Homo sapiens: one gene and its partner. The protein of the gene in region 2 purifies or fractionates together with the protein of the main gene of each other region. This does not show direct contact. Each region holds a gene or a part of one and is shown on either strand. Other genes may lie near its edges. The genes, in order: ELAVL4 and ATP8B4.

The links.
Region 1: the proteins of ATP8B4 (region 2) and ELAVL4 purify together in Homo sapiens (affinity purification with mass spectrometry; one large-scale study listed by BioGRID and IntAct). This does not show direct contact.

The regions. Positions count from the first base shown.
Region 1 is NC_000001.11:50,139,862-50,143,685, reverse strand, and holds part of ELAVL4 (ELAV-like protein 4), read right to left. Parts: intron 1,915-3,824; exon of another isoform or gene 1,834-1,914; coding exon of another isoform or gene 1,828-1,833; intron 1-1,827. UniProt on the Homo sapiens protein: RNA-binding protein that is involved in the post-transcriptional regulation of mRNAs. Plays a role in the regulation of mRNA stability, alternative splicing and translation.
Region 2 is NC_000015.10:49,926,950-49,930,773, forward strand, and holds part of ATP8B4 (probable phospholipid-transporting ATPase IM), read right to left. Parts: intron 1-3,824. UniProt on the Homo sapiens protein: Component of a P4-ATPase flippase complex which catalyzes the hydrolysis of ATP coupled to the transport of aminophospholipids from the outer to the inner leaflet of various membranes and ensures the maintenance of asymmetric distribution of phospholipids.

The DNA of each region.
Region 1 (3,824 bases), on a different chromosome or scaffold from region 2:
TCTCCTCAGAAACTGATCATCAACTCCTTGGAAATGAAATCATACTCTGCCACTTACTAGCTGTGTGACCTTGGCAAGGGACTTAAATCCTAAGAGTCTTCATTTTCCTCATTTGAAAAATGGGAACAATGCCACCGTATGGCAAAGCGGTAAGAACCGATCCAGTGATATGACTTATGTAAAGCACCAGAACAGTGGTGGGCACATAACCACAATCACTGATGTTTATTAGTTACTCTGCCAATCATCCAATGTGACTTCTCTCACTGTCTCCTCACAAGAAGGCAATGAAGCATATTCTAATATTCTCTATGTCTTATAGATGAGGAAACCAAGGCATAGCAGACATCTGATAACTAGTAGCTTCCATTATTATTACCATTTGCCTGCTCAGAGGATTTAGGGGGGAAGCATTTTCATTTACTATAACATACATGTAATAAAGTGTATAAATCTTAAGGGTACAACACAAAGAATGTTTACAAAGTGAACACAATTCACAACTGGGTAATTACCTTTCAGATCACAATACAGAACATGACTGGCACCCCAAATGCCTTTCTCAGGTTCTCCATCCCTGTCATTTACCTCACCCCTCAAAGGTAACCACTATTCTGAATTCTAGTCCACAGATTTGTTTTACCTATTTTTTTACCTTTATATACATGGACTCATACAACACATACTCTTTTGTGCCTTTTCACACATGTATGGAGTGTCATCTGCTCTGTTACATGTAACAATGCATTGTTCTTCCCACTGCTATAGCAATTTCCATTGTGTGGAAATATTACATTTTATTTATCTGTTGATGAACATTTGGATTGTTTCTAATTTTGAACTACTATAGATAATGCTGCTATGAGCGTTATGTACAACATTTTGGTACAAAAATGTACATATTTCTATTGGGGATAGTCCTAGGATTCTGTTTTTGGGATCATAGGGTGTATGTATATTTAGCTTCAGTAGATACTGCCAACAGTATTTCAAAGTGGCTGTATCCATTTATATTCCCACCAGCAGAGTATGAAAGTTCCAGTTGCTCCACATCCTCATCAATGTTCAGAGACTATTTTTTGTTTTTGTTTTTGTTTATTTTCTCATCTGAAGCAGAGTGGTATAGTAAAAATGGAATGAGTGTTTGAGTCAAGACAACAGGTGATTTAAAATCTGAGTTCTAGGCCAGGTGCGGTGGCTCACACCTGTAATCCCAACACTTTGGGAGGCCGAGGTGGGCAGATCACCTGAGGTCAGGAGTTCAAGACCAGCCTGACCAACATGGAGAAACCCAGTCTCTATTGAAAATACAAAATTAGCTGTGTGTGTGTGGTGGTGCACACCTGTAATCCCAGCTACTCGGGAGGCTGAGGCAGGAGAATCACTTGAACCTGGGAGGTAGAGGGTACAGTGAGCCAAGATTGCACCACTGCACTCTAGCCTGGGCAACAGGAGTGAAACTCCGTCTCAAAAAACAAAAAAACAAAAAACTTAGTTTTACCACTTATTAGCTGTGTGATCTGAGGCAGGTTACTTCAATACTCTGAGCCTCAGCTTCCTCTTCAGCAAAACTGGAATAAAAAGCTTGCCACGCAGGGTTATCTTCAGGATGAGAGATAATGTACATTAAATGTCTAAAATACAAAGGGCCCAGAGGCATCATAACTATTATTCCTCATCATGCCCCACGTAGGTGAGTGTTATTCTAATTCTTTCATCTTCTGATGGTCACAAATGATAAATGAAACAAAAAGGAAAACATGGCTCAAGAGGAGCCAAGGAAATAAAGCAGACTAAGAAAGATGGGGAGCATCTAAGATTCTTTACCATCATGTAAGTAATTTAAGTGGCTCCACTTCTCCCATCACCAGAATTTTCTTCTTGGCTTCAGGTCAACTTTAGGATTCTAGAAGGCTGGTCCAGACAGCAAGGAGAAAGCAAAAAGCTTCTGAGAAGAATCTTAAATCAAGCTCCCCTCAGGACTGATAGAAGTTGTACCCAGCAAAGCCTATTCAGCCACTTTGCCTTCGAGGCAAGGGTCCAGGAAAAGAATCAGGGAGATGGTCCCCAGGGAAGGAGGCATGCTAAAGGGATGGCATTACAGAGCATCAGCACAACTCCTGGCTAGGAGGCAGGTTTCAGCTCTGCCAAGCTGTGGGGCCTTCTGGGTCTTTGCAGTGCCTCCATTTGCTGTGTTGTCTCACTGCTTCACTGAGTCAGGTGTCCAGGCAACAAACATAAGAAGCACTGCCAACTCGATAATGAACATGAAAATCAGAATTTATCCATTCAGGAGGCCGGACTACTACATTCGATTTAATGGCAAAAACCCCCCAGGCCCACAATCTTTAGAAACTCTTCTCTGTTTTCTACCTTTTTCAGGTTACCCTTCTTTCAGCTCCCCAACAAACACCTAGAAAATATCCCACACCAAGGCAGCTTATTTGGTGCTAGTGATGGAGTATGTGGAAGAATTTCATGTTGAGATTCTGTGGGACCAAAACTCATAAAGGTCACCTGATAGTCAGGTTCATCTTTCGTTTTCAGACACGTGGTGAAAGCCAGCACTTGTCCATGTGAACATCTCACAGGTCCACCTCCTCCAGGAAGGCCTGTGAAGTAACAAGGCTGCAGCAAAGTAATTTCAGTCCCCGCATCAGCTTTGTGGCCTTCCTTGCATTCTATGTGGATTTCCTAATCTATGTTGACTCCAGGAGGTGAGTCCTGTCTGTAGATTAGACAGCCCAACTGGTCCCAACTAGCTTCTAAAAGGAGCCATGAGATACAATGCTCACTACTGAGCTACTTTAGCTGACCACATCTATAAATTAGGTCAAGTCATTCTCATCCAATGTAGATGGAGCTCTCTTTGCTCTGCATCTACACTACACAGTTATTCTTTTGTGTATCCAGAAGGAACTGATGAAAACACACAAATGGACACATACAAAGAGAGTTTTCTCAATAAAAGTGTGCTGTCTGAAAGCTGAGAAACATTTGCAAATGTGTTAATATACATCCTATAATAAGACCCCTCACAGGTCTTAATGATGCATCTTAGGATGCAACACAGGCTGAAAAAAAAAATCAGAAATGTAAAACATCAGAATCAAATCTGACATGTGAATGAAACAAGAGGATTTTAAAACATTACCTGGAAAATAAGAGAAGTTGCCAAGATGTAAAGATATTAAATGCACGAATATGAAACTACAGCATTTTAAGGTTACATGATAGACCTCAAAGACAGGACACCTGTTCTCTCTGCTTGGGAAACAGAGGGACAGAACAGGAGTAGAAAAGATGTGTGTTGGTAGAAAGCACATCCTCCAGTAAGTACAGAGGCTGGCTGGGCAAAATCAGAACACTTGCTTCCTCAGGCTAACGCCTTTGATATTCTAACAGCACAATTTTCATTGCAAATAAATATATCAGTTACTCAAGTGTGCATATGTACTTTAATGAAACATTCTGTGTGGGTCTCACAGCCAACTTTGCAGCTGACCAGGTTCCAAGCCCCTGACTTGCCCTCCTTTCCTCATTTGAATAGCAATTAAGAACAGAATTACAGTCAGCATCCAGGATAGATCATTGAGGAGGTTCAGTTGACTTCGAACTCTAATGGATGTACAAAGCACTACATTAAATCTTTTATGTTTCTGTGATATATTTTAAGAAACATTATACAGGCAGAAAATTTCAGGGATAAACTATTAGAGCGGTGCACAATAACGTAGGCACTCAAATCCTGTCATCGTAAATGTCGATGGTTTGAATGACTAATTACTCACACTCAATGCATTAACCTCACCCCTCCCACCACT
Region 2 (3,824 bases):
GAGTTGAGCAACTTTTATCTAAAGATCTCGTAAGAGCCTTCCAAGAAGCTTCTTGTAATTTCTTCTTCTTTAATGGTTATCTGCCACTTGCCCCTGTTAATAGCCACCTCTGAATTTTATCTCTGTATTTCTATTTACAGAATTAGTAGAATTGGTCCTTCCAAAACTATATAATGTCATTTATATTTTTTACTAATATAGTATATTCTGTTCCCTCTGGAAAAAAATCCTTTATAGAAATCAATTTTTATGTAGATACTTCTGACTTAAATCAGGGCTCTTTCTTCAGAATGAAAGTACTACTGGTATTGAAATTATACATTGATGATTTAGTGAATAATGGCTGCCACCCAAAAACAAGGAAGCAGAAGAGGGAGGAGGAGAAAGGGGAGGATCAGCAGCAACAGAAGCAATGCCTGAGCCTTTGCATCAGGGTGTTGTTCCTACAGACCAACCCATGTGACGATCATGAGACCAGGATTGTTTTCTGCCTTGTTATCATGCAAAGACTTTTCTGCCCTGGTAGAGTCCCTCTAAAAATCCTCCTGATTAAAAACCAAGCAGAATAAAAATAAATCCAGCAAACCTTCATGCATTCTGTGGTAGAGCACTACCTTTCCTCATATGGGATCCATTAAGGCAAACATCTGATGTTTGTGGTTAGGCTGCAATTTCTCCACAGCCTGTAATGGTGACCAATGCTGAGGAAAAGCCAAACATCTCCCTGTGTAGCAATTTTAGGTTTTTGTCAACACCCTCAGAGCAAAAAGAAACCAACTCTGGGCCAAACCAACATCAATAACACCTTCCCTGAGGCTGTAAATAGAAGATAGCTCCTGCTGATACAACATTAAGCCAACACCTAGAACGGCATGTGTGCTCATCAGTGGCACTGGTGATGACTTCCCTGTTGTCAAAACATAAAAATAAAAATAAACATTCTCAGATGTTATTTGGTTTTTACCTGCTGAGAGCCATCTTTCAAGGCTAGTTTCTAGTAGTTAGAGACCAAAAACCCTACTGTTACGTATAAACACTTTTTAAATAGTAAGAAATTGATTAAATACCATGAGTAGGATATTCATAATTTACAAAGTGCTGGGTTGAGTAGTATTTCATAAACATTTATAGAAAACTTATCATGTGCCAAGCTCTGTGCTTTGCCTTGGGCAGTTTAGGAAGACTAAGGTACAGCACTTGCCTGAGGTAGCACACAGTTTAATGACTAGGATAGTTGTGAGTGTCATGGAATTAATACCACACTGGTGTTATGAACAAGGCATTCTGGGGAACACAGAAGAATGTGGTTATTTGGAGAATAGAAAAAGAATTGAAAAATGGGTAACATTTGAATTGGACATTACCAGATGAGTAGTAGGGAACATTTCCAAGAAGAGAAGTGGGGGAAAGGAGTATTCAAGACAGGAGAACAGCATGTCCAAAGGGTATAACAGCAACAATGCATCCAGGGATGGTGAGGTCTAGTTGAGCTCAAAGTTTTGGAAAGTAGAAGAAAAGTAGATTGAGATCAGATTGCAAATAATTTTGCACGTCATACTAATGACTTTTTCTTTTAAGGTTTGGGAAGCCACCTATGCTTTTTAAGTAGGGGGTAGTAAAATCAGGCCTATGTTTTAGAAAGAATATCCTGGTGACAGCATAGAGGATTATTTTAAAAGCGAATAATTTTGAAGATATTACAATAATACAAGCAAGCAGTGACAAGAAACTTAACTAAGGCAGGGTACTGGGAATTAGGAAAAAAGGACAAAAAGCTTTCATGATTAAAAAGGGGTTTATGAGGCCATTTTAATAAATATTATTCTGATGCCTCTGAGGAGAGACTTACAAACAGGGTGACAATAGAATATTCTAGAGATGTTAAGGCCTGAGACTGGAAGAGAAGGAGATGGATTAGAGAAATGTCTCAAACATCTCTGGGGAAAATAATGGATAGTATTTGAGGATCTATTAGTCTAGAGAAGTGGTCCCCAAACTGTGATTCCCTGACCAGTGGCATCAGCATCACCCACAAGCTTGTTAGAAATGCAAATTGGTGGGCCCCACCTCAGACCAGCTAAATAAGACTAGAGGCTGAGGCCCAGCAATCTGTATTGTAACAAGCCCTCCTGGTGACGCTGATGGGAGGTAAAGTTTGAGAACCATCAGCCAAGGGGCACAAAAGCTATGGAAAAAAGTGAGTGAGCTATAATAGGCCTTAAAAGACCAGATTTTGGAAAACCTGGGTTCACATATCTGATCTGCCTCTTACCCAACTGCGCCACAAGTTGTGTTACAGCTGTGTGACAATCTTTGGCAAGTTACTTAAAATCTTTGCATTTAGTCTCCTCTTGTCTTAAATGGGACATGCATGTTACATGCAGTTGCAACGATTCAATAAAAGAATTCATTATAAAGTTCATGGACAAGCATACAATGAGAGAGGTAACTGTGAATTTTAATACAGATTATAGAAAGAACTATAGTTGTGAGAAAGAAAGTTCCATATTTGACATAAAACTTTAGGTAACAATCCAGTGACAGGACATAACGGAAGCTGAAAATGTGTGTTTGGACTCTAGAAAGAGATCGAAGCTAAACAGCTGTATAAGAAGGTCACAGAATATAAGCAATAGCTACCACCATGTATGTGGTCAAGATCATCCAAGAAGAACACAGGAGCTAAAAAGAGAAAAGGACATCAATATTGAAGAATGGGATGAAGGAGAATAGTCAGCAAAGGAGCTTGAGAAAGAAAACAATGGGACAAGAAGAGAAACAGGAGCCAGAAAGTTTACAGAGACCAAAACAGGAGTGTCAAGAAAACAGGGCCAACAGTCTCAAATACTACTAAGTTTAAAAAAATAGATAGATGAACAGATTAATAAGGAAAAGCCATTGGACTGGGAAGTTACAAGGTTAATGGAAACCTCTGAGAAAGCATTTCTTCTTGAGTAGAGGAAGAAGAAACTTAACCCTAATGGGATGAAAAGAGTAAGAAAGGCAAGAAGCAAAAACTGACCTGAGAAACTAATCTGGGATGGAAAGCAGAAAAATATAGTGGCAAAGTCAGTGGACACCAGCATATGAAGAATATTTTTAAGGAAACAGGAGGATAATATAGTTGTGGGCTGAAGGAAGGAGCCAGTAATTGAGAAATTGAAGGCAAAAGCAAGAAGTGAGCAAGCAAGGAGGGATAAGGAATGGGACTGGAAAAACCTTCAGCTTTGAAAAGGAAAAAGAGCAATTGTTTTCTGATGCAGGAGAGTAAATTATTAAAGATACAGCTTAGGGATGAAGAGGGAGGATGGGGAAAAGACTTAATGGTGTGCATTCCTGAGGGCCTTTATTTTCTTAGAGAAATAGGAGATGAATTTAGCTTTCAAGAGTAAAGAAGATTGTAGCAGTGTTGAGAACTTGAGGAAACAGCCAAGGTTTAGAATATCTATTGTGAAAATGGAAAAAGGCACTAAATATGAATGAGAGTGACATTGACACAGCACTAAGAGTTAGCATTGAGTCAGGAAAGCACAGATTTGTTGTGGTGCTAAATATAATATTAGGTGGTCCTCTCCAGCAATGGAGGTGGACAGAGAAAATGAATGATAATGAGGAGGCTGAGGACGATGTTCACAACAACTGTCATGTGCCAAGCAATTTAGAAACTCATCCGGAGCCAGTACTGTATAGTGAACAAGTGAATGGGCTATGCAGTCACACTTCCTAGGTCTGAATCCCAGCTATTCTACTTCAAACTATGCGAACCTGGGCAAGTTACTCAACCTTTCTGTGTCTTAGTTTCATTATCTGTTAATGGGTATAAA